Linked DNA regions of Homo sapiens: region 2 is linked to region 1. The links come from fine-mapping of genetic effects on gene expression. A gene starts in region 1. The other region holds a variant in brackets. All regions are shown on one strand. Distances are between the middles of the regions.

Region 1 (5,372 bases):
TCAAAATACAGGAAGCATAGAAGCTTCCAAAACACGCCTGTACCCACCACGTGAAGAAACAGATGTTAACATTTGGTCATAATTGCTTCAGATTTCTTTCTTTTTTTTTTTTTCTGTTTTTTTTTTGGGGGGGACAGAGTCTTGCTCTGTCGCCCAGGCTGGAATGTAGTGGCATGATATTGGCTCAGTGCAACCTCCTCCTCCTGGGTTGGAGTGCAGTGGCATGATCTCAGTTCACTGCAACCTCTGCCTCCTGGGTTCAAGAGAGCACCTCCAGCTAATTTTTGTCTTTTTAGTAGAGACAAGGTTTTGCCATGTTGCCCAGGCTGGTCTGGAACACCTGACCTCAAGTGATCCGCTCACCTCGGCCTCCCAAAGTGCCAGGATTACAGGTGTGAGACACCACACCGGCTAAATAATAAGTTTTTAAAAAAACAGGAGACTGGCCAGGCATGGTGACTCACGCCTGTAATCGCAGAACTTTGGGAGGCTGAGGTGGGCAGATCACCTGAGATCGGGCATTGGAGACCAGCCTGGCCAACATGGAGAAACCCCGTCTCTACTAAAAATACAAAATTAGCCGGGCGTGGTGGTGCGTGCCTGTAATCACAGCTACTAGGGAGGCTGAGGCAGGAGAATCGCTTGTACCCGGGAGGCGGAGGTTGCGTGAGCCAAGATTGCGCCACTGCACTCCAGCCTGGGCAACCAGAATAAAACTGTCTCAAAAAAAAAAAAAACAAAAACAGGCCGGGCGCGGTGGCTCACGCCTGTAATCCCAGCACTTTGGAAGGCCAAGGTGGGTGGATCACGAGGTCAGGAGATCGAAACCATCCTGGCTAACACGGTGAAACCCCGTCTCTACTAAAAAATACAAAAAATTAGCCGGGCGCGGTGGCGGCGCCCGTAGTCCCAGCTACTCGGGGGTGCTGAGGCAGGAGAATGGCGAGAACCCGGGAGGCAGAGCTTGCAGTGAGCCGAGATCGCGCCACTGCAGTCCGGCCTGGGTGAAAGAGCGAGACTCTGTCTCAAAAAAAAAAAAACCAAACAAACAAACAAACAAAAAAACAAAACAACAGGAGAAGATGATGACAGACCTCACAAGAGCTTGGCCCCAGGGCTGAAACCCCACCCAGTGCTGTGGTTCTGCGGCTGTGGGCCCATGGGTGCCCCCAAAGGGTCCCAGGCAGATGGAGGCTCCTGGTTGGCGTGGAGGAAGGAAAAGGATGAAATCGGCTCCCCTGGCCACCCCTTCTAGCCCAGCTGCAGCTGCAGTCCGTGGGTCTGAGCCGACCCTTGGGGTTCATCGGCCCATTTTACAGATGCGGAGCCTACAGCCGGGAGGCGTGGCGGCTCTGGGCGGTGCAGGGTTCCGGGGCGGGGAGGCCGAGGCGCCCGCCCTCCCCGCCGGGGCTCACCTGGGTCAGCCCTGAGCCCTCGAGCAGGGCGGATCGGCCGCTGCCTGCTTAAAGCTGGGGCCGCCAGGAGTGCGATCGCCTGCGGATCTGCAGCTGGGCACCGGCCGCAACGCCCGCCCCGCGACGGCAGGTGAGATGCGGGCGGCCCCGTGGGAGGGGTCTCTGCCTGTCCTCGTCACCCACTTCCTTCCCGTTTGTTGCTGCTGCAGGGCTGGGAATGGGGGGGACCAAGCACTTCGCAGGGTGACCCGGGGAGATCTGTGAGCCAGTGGCCTCAGCGTTGAATGAGAGCTCTCTCCCGGGTCCGCGCTCGCAGGGACTGAAGGGACTCCTGAATGTCCGCGGGACGTGTCGCGGCGGCGCCCAGCACGGAGGAGGCAGGCAGGGAGGTGAGGAGCAGGTCAGACCGGCCGCAGGTGCAGGGCCTCCTGCCCTCCCAGGCTGCGGTCCCGTGGAGGGCCTGCAGACAGCTGCTGAGACTATGAGGGTCAGAGGTCTGTGGTCACGCGCGCTATCACCAGCTAGCTGCCTCCTGCCTGGTTCCTCCTGCAGGAATGGGAGTCTGGGGGGAGGGGAGGGTGTGGGCAGGACTTCCTGGAAAAGGGAAGCCCGTTGGTGTTTATGTGTGGGATGGAGAGAGGGCAGGGGGAGGACGGGGACACACGCGGAGTCCCCCACCCAGATGTTGTCAAACACAGCTCCCACACCAGACACGCAACCCATCCTAGAGATGCAACCCAGGCACACACACATGGACACACACAAAACTCCATCCATAGGGATTCCCACCCAGTGCCACGTGAGAACACAGGCGTGCATCGCAGACAAGCCACACAGGCCTCGCAGGCTCAGCATACATGTCTGCAGCAACACCATCAGGTACAGAGCCGAGGCCCAGGTAGGCATGCTCAGCTGCACGCAGGAAGCAAGACACACCCAGACACACACAGGTAAGCCCTTACTCAGAGAAAGAAGGTGCAGGAGATGTGTCTTGGGTAATCACAGCCACAGCCTCTCAAGTGTGCACACACACACACACTCACACTGAGATACACAGACACACAGAGATACCTGGACGTGTCAAGCCTACAGCACAAACAGGCCCCTGCAGGTCCACCCGGAGGCTGTGTGGGCCGAGGCTGCTGCACACGTGTGCCCAGATCCTCCCACCCCCACCCCAATCCCGTGTCCTGCTCCAGGGAAGTCCAGGGCTCACATGACCCAAGGGGAGGGCTCCCGGGACAGCCCTCGGAGAAACTGCATCATCCTCACTAATGATCCACTTCCTCCTCAGGGAATAAAGGCTCAGGGACCGGCAGTTCTACTCTAGAGCCCACCAGCCTCTCAGAGCCTCCGGTGACTGGCCTGTGTCTCCCCCTGGGTGAGTGCTGGGCAGGCTAGGTGGAAGGAGGGTGAAATGGGCCTGCAGGGCCATCTTGGTACAGCTCGCCCTCTCACAGACCGCGCCCCCCTTCCCTAAGCCAGCTTGTGCAGCCTTGTGCAGCTTGTGTGTCCTGAGAATTAGGGCACCAAGGGGTTCCCGCAGGGGCAGCCTGCAGCAAGCAGTCTCCCTCTATCTCAGGGCAGGCGGGGGTCTCAAGGCCTCCCTGCCCTTGTCACAGCCCGGGCCACCTATGCTTGTCTCTCTTCTCCCAGATGGACATGTGGACGGCGCTGCTCATCCTGCAAGCCTTGTTGCTACCCTCCCTGGCTGATGGTGCCACCCCTGCCCTGCGCTTTGTAGCCGTGGGTGACTGGGGAGGGGTCCCCAATGCCCCATTCCACACGGCCCGGGAAATGGCCAATGCCAAGGAGATCGCTCGGACTGTGCAGATCCTGGGTGCAGACTTCATCCTGTCTCTAGGGGACAATTTTTACTTCACTGGTGTGCAAGACATCAATGACAAGAGGTTCCAGGTCTGTGCCCAACAGAGTGGGGCAGGAGGTGGGGGCGGGCAGTGGGGAGAAGCCGCCTTACCTAGTGACCTTCCTTTGGTGAGGGCAGAGGGAAGGTGATGGGGCACCTTTGGGCGCCGGGAGCATTCAGTGTCTCCCTTATCCTGACTTGGTGGGAGGATCGGCATAGCCACTGACCCCAGGGAAGAGGCCTGCCCTATCTGTTTGCTACAGGAGACCTTTGAGGACGTATTCTCTGACCGCTCCCTTCGCAAAGTGCCCTGGTACGTGCTAGCCGGAAACCATGACCACCTTGGCAATGTCTCTGCCCAGATTGCATACTCTAAGATCTCCAAGCGCTGGTGAGCCACCCTCAGCCCTGCCTTCCGAGATCCTCACATAGCAGGGACACAGGGGCCCTGTGGCTTGAGCTGACCCTGGGACTTCTGCGCCCAAGATGTGCACCCACGACCTCTATCCCCTCCACAGGAACTTCCCCAGCCCTTTCTACCGCCTGCACTTCAAGATCCCACAGACCAATGTGTCTGTGGCCATTTTTATGCTGGACACAGTGACACTATGTGGCAACTCAGATGACTTCCTCAGCCAGCAGCCTGAGAGGCCCCGAGACGTGAAGCTGGCCCGCACACAGCTGTCCTGGCTCAAGAAACAGCTGGCGGCGGCCAGGGAGGACTACGTGCTGGTGGCTGGCCACTACCCCGTGTGGTCCATAGCCGAGCACGGGCCTACCCACTGCCTGGTCAAGCAGCTACGGCCACTGCTGGCCACATACGGGGTCACTGCCTACCTGTGCGGCCACGATCACAATCTGCAGGTGAGGGCCCTGTGGGTGGGGTGGGAGCTGGGTGAGGGGGGTCCCCATCCCAGCTGATGTCCACATGGCTGGGGTCCTCCTGCTGTTTGAGGGTCTCCTGTGGCCTTCAGAATGTCTAGACTGTCCCTCAAATCTTGCTGTCTAACCAGGAAAACACTCCAAAGCCAGAATAATATCTTCGAATTGCCAATTTCTTTCTTTCTTTCTTTTTTAAGCTCTTTTTTTTTTTTTTTTTTGGAGACAAGGTTTCATTGTTTTTCACCCAGGCTGGAGTGCAGTGGTGCAATCGGGGCTTACTGCAGCTTCAATCTCCCGGGCTCAGGTGAACCTCCCACTTCAGCCTCCAGAGTAGCTGACACTACAGGCATGGGCCACCACATGCAGCTAATTTTTGCTTTTTTTTTTTTTTTTGAGAGGGAGTGCAGTGGCACGATCTCAACTCACTGCAACCTCCGCCTCCTGGGTTCAAGCAATTCTCCTGTCTCAGCCTCCCAAGTAGCTGGGATTACAAGCATGGGCCACCAAACCTTGCTAATTTTTATATTTTAGTAGAGACGGGGTTTCACCATGTTGGCCAGGCTGATCTCGAACTTCTGACCTCAAGTGATCTGCCCGCCTCGGCCTCCCAAAGTGCTGGGATTATAGGCATGAGCCACTGCACCTGGCCCTTGCGCATTTTTTTTGTAGAGGCAAGGTCTCACTATGTTGCCCAGGCTGGTCTCAAATTCCTGGGCTCAAGCAATCCACCCCCTCAGCCTCCCAAAGTGCTGGGATTACAGGCATGAGCCACCACACCTGGCCACCAATTTCTTACTAAGTGCTCTACCTATGAAATAGGATTAATACACTCCTAAAAGTCAGGAAATTGAAGCCAGGAGGGGTTACATACCTCAAGGTGACTCTGTGGTTAGGGCCAGATCGAGCCCTGGACCTTAGGCAGGGCTCTGCTCAAAGCTGGGTCTCCACTGACCCCTTGTCCTCCATCCTCAGTACCTGCAAGATGAGAATGGCGTGGGCTACGTGCTGAGTGGGGCTGGGAATTTCATGGACCCCTCAAAGCGGCACCAGCGCAAGGTCCCCAACGGCTATCTGCGCTTCCACTATGGGACTGAAGACTCACTGGGTGGCTTTGCCTATGTGGAGATCAGCTCCAAAGAGATGACTGTCACTTACATCGAGGCCTCGGGCAAGTCCCTCTTTAAGACCAGGCTGCCGAGGCGAGCCAG
Region 2 (5,372 bases), 48 kb before region 1:
CAGCCTGGGCGACAGAGCAAGACTCCGTCTCAAAAAAAAAAAAAAAAAGAAAAGAAAAGAAAAAAAAGGCTGGGCGCGGTGGCTCATGCCTGTAATCCCAGCGCTTTGGGAAGCTGAGGCGAGCGGATCACGAGGTCAAGAGATGGAGATCATCCTGGCCAACACGGTGAAACCCGTCTCTACTAAAACTACAAAAATTAGCTGCGCCTGGTGGCGCATGCCTGTAATCCCAGCTACTTGAGAGGCTGTGGCAGGAGAATCGTTTGAACCCAGGAGGCGGAGGTTGCAGTGAGCTGAGATCACACCACTGCACTCCAGCCTGGGCAACAAGAGCGAAACTCCGTCTCAAAAAAAAAATAAAATAAAATAAATTGAAGCATTTCTCATAACCAGAATACCATAGTCACACCTACTAATTTCCTAATATTAGCTGACAGCATGACACTGGAATCTCATAAATTATATAAACAATTTAAAAAATATTTTGTAGAGACACAGTCTGACTATATTGCCCGGCTGGTCTTGAAGTCTTGGCCTCAAGGGATTCTGCTGCCTTGGCCTTCCATTGCATATGGAAACGCAAAGTGGAAATGTTATCCATTTAACATAAAAGACAACATAACCTTAAAAATATGTGTGACATTCCCTATCCATAGCTCTGTCTGCAGCCAGAATGAAGAATGAGTCCTAGATTGCCAAAATAACTTTTAATTCTAAATTGTTGAAACTTACAAACTGCAGCGTTGCTTTTCTTTTTTCTTTTCTTTTCTTTCTTTCTTTCTTTTTTTTTTTTTTTTTTTTTTTTTTTTTTGGAGACAGAATTTCGCTTTTGCCCAGGCTGGAGTGCAATGGCGTGATCACAGCTCACCGCAACCTCCACCTCCAGAGTTCAAGCGATTCTCCTGTCTCAGCCTCCCAAGTAGCGGGGATTACAGGTATGCGCAACCACACCTGGCTAATTTTGTATTTTTAGTAGAGGCGGGGTTTCTCCATGATGGTCAGTGCAGGGAGCCAAAGGCCGCTGGGACACGACAAACTCAGCATTCCGCAGGAGTCTATATGATCAAACAGCAAACTGTTTATCATGAATGCAGGTTGTGGGCAAACTCACACTGCCCTGCCACCAAAAGGTTTGCTGAGGGACATCACTCCCTGGCACCGGGCTCCTTGAAGTTATCTACTGAGAAAATTAGTGCCTATTGTCCAAAGGATGCAGTCTCACAAGCCTGCTGTGAACCAAACAGAACCAAACGGCCAACTGACAATTACCCGACAATCACTCCCTCTTTTCTCACTATCCCTTTGGCCTAATAAATACGGAGGACTGTGTAAAGCTCGGGGCCCTTGTCCACTAGAGGCAAGGTGCTGCCCCCATCCCTTCTTCCAAATATACTCTTTTGTCTCTTGTCTTTTATTCCCACGTTCGCCCCCCTTTGTTCAGTCCCCCTAGGTCCGTGCAGGTTACACAGTGGCACCCCAAACAGCGACAGGATCGGAAGCTCTATAAGTGGCACTCGAACAGGCGGCAGTCCAAACACGGGACTATGAGGACGTGAACGAAGAAGGTCTGCTGGAGTAGAGGAACTGAAATTGACAAGACGCACGGGGACTCCGGGATGAGTCTGCCGATAGCGTATGTAAGGTCAGTGCCCTAAAGAAGTACTGGGGGCAGTGCTTTAAAGAAGTACTGGGAAGGGGAAGTTTTCTGAATCAGGTTAACAAGGGGAAGAATTTGTCTACTGAAGAAAAACATTATGTGCACTTGCTTAAGTTTCTGTTGAGACAGTCTGGAGCTCAGGTTAATTCGCAGGCACTAACTAACCTCCTGCAGAAGCCACAAATGGTTATTCACGCATCACCCATGGTTTCCACAGGCAGGCACTCTTGATGCGGAAAATTGGGACAGAGCAGGAGAAGGATTAAAACAGGCTCATCAAAAAGGTTTTAAAGTTGATTCTTCAGTTTTCTCCACTTGGAGTTTAGTTCATACTGTACTTCTGCCATTAGCTCCTTATTATTCTGCGGGACAGCAGGCTGAGTCTAAAAATCTGAAAGAATCTGTTGTCCCACCCACAGCGCCAACTGAAAATAAAAAACAGGTGAGGGAGGATAAAAATTGGCCTATACCGCCTCCTCCAATCGCAGAAACATCTGTACTGCCTCCTTCAGTAGCAGAAATAGAGACCCCAAAACAAACAACTTTATGCTCTGCTGCCATAGCTGGAGA[G/A]CCCTTAGGACCTTGCACTTTTCCTATTTCCGTAAGGCCCGATTCAAATAATCCACAGCAGTTTATTCATGAACACACCCCACTAGAATTTAAGTTGTTGAAGGAATTAAAAACTAGTGTGGTCAATAATGGAGTACATAAGCCCATGGTTCCCGGAAGAAGGAACGCTAGGCTTAGAACTCTGGGAATGAGTGGGGAGAAATCTTGAACAACATCAGGTGCAAAGGCATCAGGTCCCAGTAAAATCTTTAACGTTATGGGCTTTAATTAGAGCAGTCCTGGCTCAGTTTACACACAGAAGAGCCTAAAAAGAGGAAGGAGGAGAAAACGTCACCTGCCTTATCACCTTCTCTTCCCTCAGCCCCAATATCACTGGGCCAAAAATAACAAAGAGGAAACAGAGGTCTTACCTAAGCCTCCTCCTCCAATAGATAGGAAAAAGGACAGAGGATACGCTACAGCTATCAGTCCCTGTCTTGAGCAGGCAGCATTAGAAGGAGAGCTCTTAACCTGCTCAGTAATGCAAAATCGGCAAGGCAAGCAGGTGTATGTCTGTAAAAAGATAAGAAAGGCCGGGCGAGGTGGCTCATGCCTGTAATCCCAGCACTTTGGGAGGCTGAGGCGGGCAGATCACCTGAGGTGGGCAGATCACCTGAGGTCGGGAGTTCGAAACCAGCCTGAGCAACATGGAGAAACCCTGTCTCTACTAAAAATACAAAATTAGCCGGGCGTGGTGGCAAGTGCCTGTAATCCCAGCTACTCGGGAGGCTGAGGCAGGAGAATCGCTTGAACTTGGAAGGCGGAGGTTGCGGTGAGCCGAGATCGCGCCATTGCACTCCAGCCTGGGCAACAAGAGCAAAAACTCCGTCTCAAAAAAAAAGAAAGAAAAAAGGCATTAGAAGCCGAAACCGCGCGACCAAGCAAGCGGTGGGCGGAATAGAAGGTTCAGCAGCAGAAAAGCTGGCAGCGACCAAGCCCACAAGGTCCGCCCAGGCTGGCAGCATGCCCCACCCCCGGCAAAGGAGGGAGGGAGCGGCGCAGACACAGGCAAAACCTGAGCAAGTACAATGCGGCCGCCGCCAAGGACCTGCACCGCAGCCCTCTGGCTCTGTGAGCAGCCCATAGCAAAAGTTCATGTGTTACGTACGTCCCAGACTATGATTCTCTGCTAAGATTTAAGTAAAATGTAAGAATTTGAAAAACCTCTTTTCTAATAATGGCCACTGTTATCTCTCTCCTACCCCTAAGGTAGCTTTCCAAATTCAATTTAAGTAAAACAGTAACCTCTGAAGGGAAAGAGATTACAGAGGGCCCACGAATTCATTAATGAGTAATTAAAAGCTAGGCATGTAAAACCACACATTACCCTTTAAAGGAGAACTTTAAACCTAATTAAATGATATTTGTCAAATTAGAAGGTAAAAATGTTGTGTCCTTCTCAGAAAGTGAAGAAAAGTTGTAAGTGTAGTGAAAACTTATGCATGAATGACTGTCTTACCCACTGATTACAGATAGTGTGATTTGTACTTGCTAAAAGAGTCCTAAATTGAGTTCCCCAGCCAGTGAGTCACTGTTTTCAAGACTGTTTGCCAGATTAAAGTCCATAAACTTGGTCAGCCCAAAAACTCAATTACAAGATTTAAGCTATTCCGCCCGTGGTTTTAAGCACATGGTTAAAGTATATCATTTAAGTCTCTGCTTCTAGAGACGCGTTCAGATTTTCTTTTTAAACTTATTACTATTTCAGCTAGCAATCTTAATGATTAATGCAGTCCAAATGCTAAGTTATGACCCTCATATCATCAGGATTCGTTTAAGTAAAAGGCAATTCGAAGCGGTATTTCACTCCCCCATACCTAAGGCTTTAACACGGTTTACTGATGGGTCTGGTAAACATGGAAAAGCAGCAGGCTAGTAGAGACCACATAATTCAATCACTCGATCTGAGTTTACTAGCACTCAGAGAGCTAAGGTTACTCTGTTTATTTATTTATTTATTTATTTTTGAGACGGAGGCTCGCTCTGTCGCTCAGTCTGGAGTGCAGTGGTGCGATCTCCACTCACTGCAAGCTCCGCCTCCCGGGTTCACGCCATTCTCCTGCCTCAGCCTCCCGAGTAGCTGGGACTACAGGCACCTGCCACCGCGCCCGGCTAATTTTTTGTATTTTTAGTAGAGACGGGGTTTCGCTGTGTTAGCCAGGATGGTCTGGATCTCCTGACCTCGTGATCCGCTCGCCTCGGCCTCCCAAAGTGCTGGGATTACAGGCGTGGGCCACCGCGCCCGTCCTATCAGGTTACTCTGTTTATTTATTAAAGAACTTTTACAACTTTAAGCTTGCTCTGGACTTTGCAGCCTTATGTTGCAAATATAGCCATCAATTTATGGGGTCGAGACTTACAGCATGGGATAGGAGACTTACAAATGAAAACTTTGATAATCCAGGATTTAAAATGTTGAAGAACATGGGATATCAGAGTGAAAAAGGTTTAGGGAAATTTCTACAATGAAATCCTAACCCGATATCAGTAACTGGAAAAACAGATAGAAAAGGGCTAGGACACAAGGATTTCTGACGGGGGGGTCATTGATATTTGATATTTCTCCTTTGCCCACTGCCTTACCATTAGAATGGCTCAGTGACAAACCTGTGTGGGTGGATCAATGGCCCCTATCACAAAAGAAGCTAGATGAACTTCATCTGTTGGTAAAAGAGCAATTGAACACAGGACATATAGAAAAGTCAGTTAGCAGGCCGGGCGCGGTGGCTCACGCCTGTAATCCCAGCACTTTGGGAGGCCCAAGCGGGAGGATCACGAGGTCAGGAGATCGAGACCATCCTGGCTAACACAGTGAAACCCCGTCTCCACTAAAAATACAAAAAAAATAGCTGGGCATGGTTGCAGGCGCCTGTAGTCCCAGCTACTTGGGAGGCTGAGGCAGGAGAATGGCATGAACCCGGGAGACAGAGCTTTACTCCAGCGTGGGCGACAGAGCGAGACTGTCTCAAAAAAAAAAAGAAAAGTCAGTTAGCCCCTGGAATTCTCCAGTATTTGTGATTCCAAAAAGGTCCCAAAACAATAACGACCTCTGGGGTTTCAGCTCAACATTCAGAGCTAACTGCAGTCATTCAGGTTTTACAGCTCA

The links. PIP is the estimated chance that this variant, and not a neighbour inherited with it, causes the effect. A credible set is the group of variants that fine-mapping cannot tell apart.
Region 2: its variant is the best candidate, but not a certain one, in a credible set for the expression of ACP5 in sun-exposed skin (GTEx, PIP 0.87).

What each region holds. Positions count from the first base shown.
Region 1 is chr19:11,575,017-11,580,388 of GRCh38, reverse strand. It overlaps ACP5 (acid phosphatase 5, tartrate resistant), which reads left to right and starts at 2,744. Exons shown (of 5, transcript NM_001611.5): 1 at 2,744-2,796; 2 at 3,072-3,332; 3 at 3,546-3,673; 4 at 3,801-4,146; 5 at 5,137-5,372. The coding sequence starts at 3,072. It overlaps LOC124904638 (a long non-coding RNA gene), which reads right to left and starts at 5,140. Exons shown (of 2, transcript XR_007067140.1): 1 at 5,036-5,140. RefSeq lists a silencer at 1,285-1,474 and enhancers at 2,425-2,564, 2,034-2,645, 2,646-3,258.
Region 2 is chr19:11,622,677-11,628,048 of GRCh38, reverse strand. No RefSeq gene overlaps it. Among named protein-coding and RNA genes, the nearest start is that of ZNF627, 28 kb to the right of the region's middle. RefSeq lists an enhancer at 3,911-4,411. The variant G/A (reference allele first, on the strand shown) is at 2,228.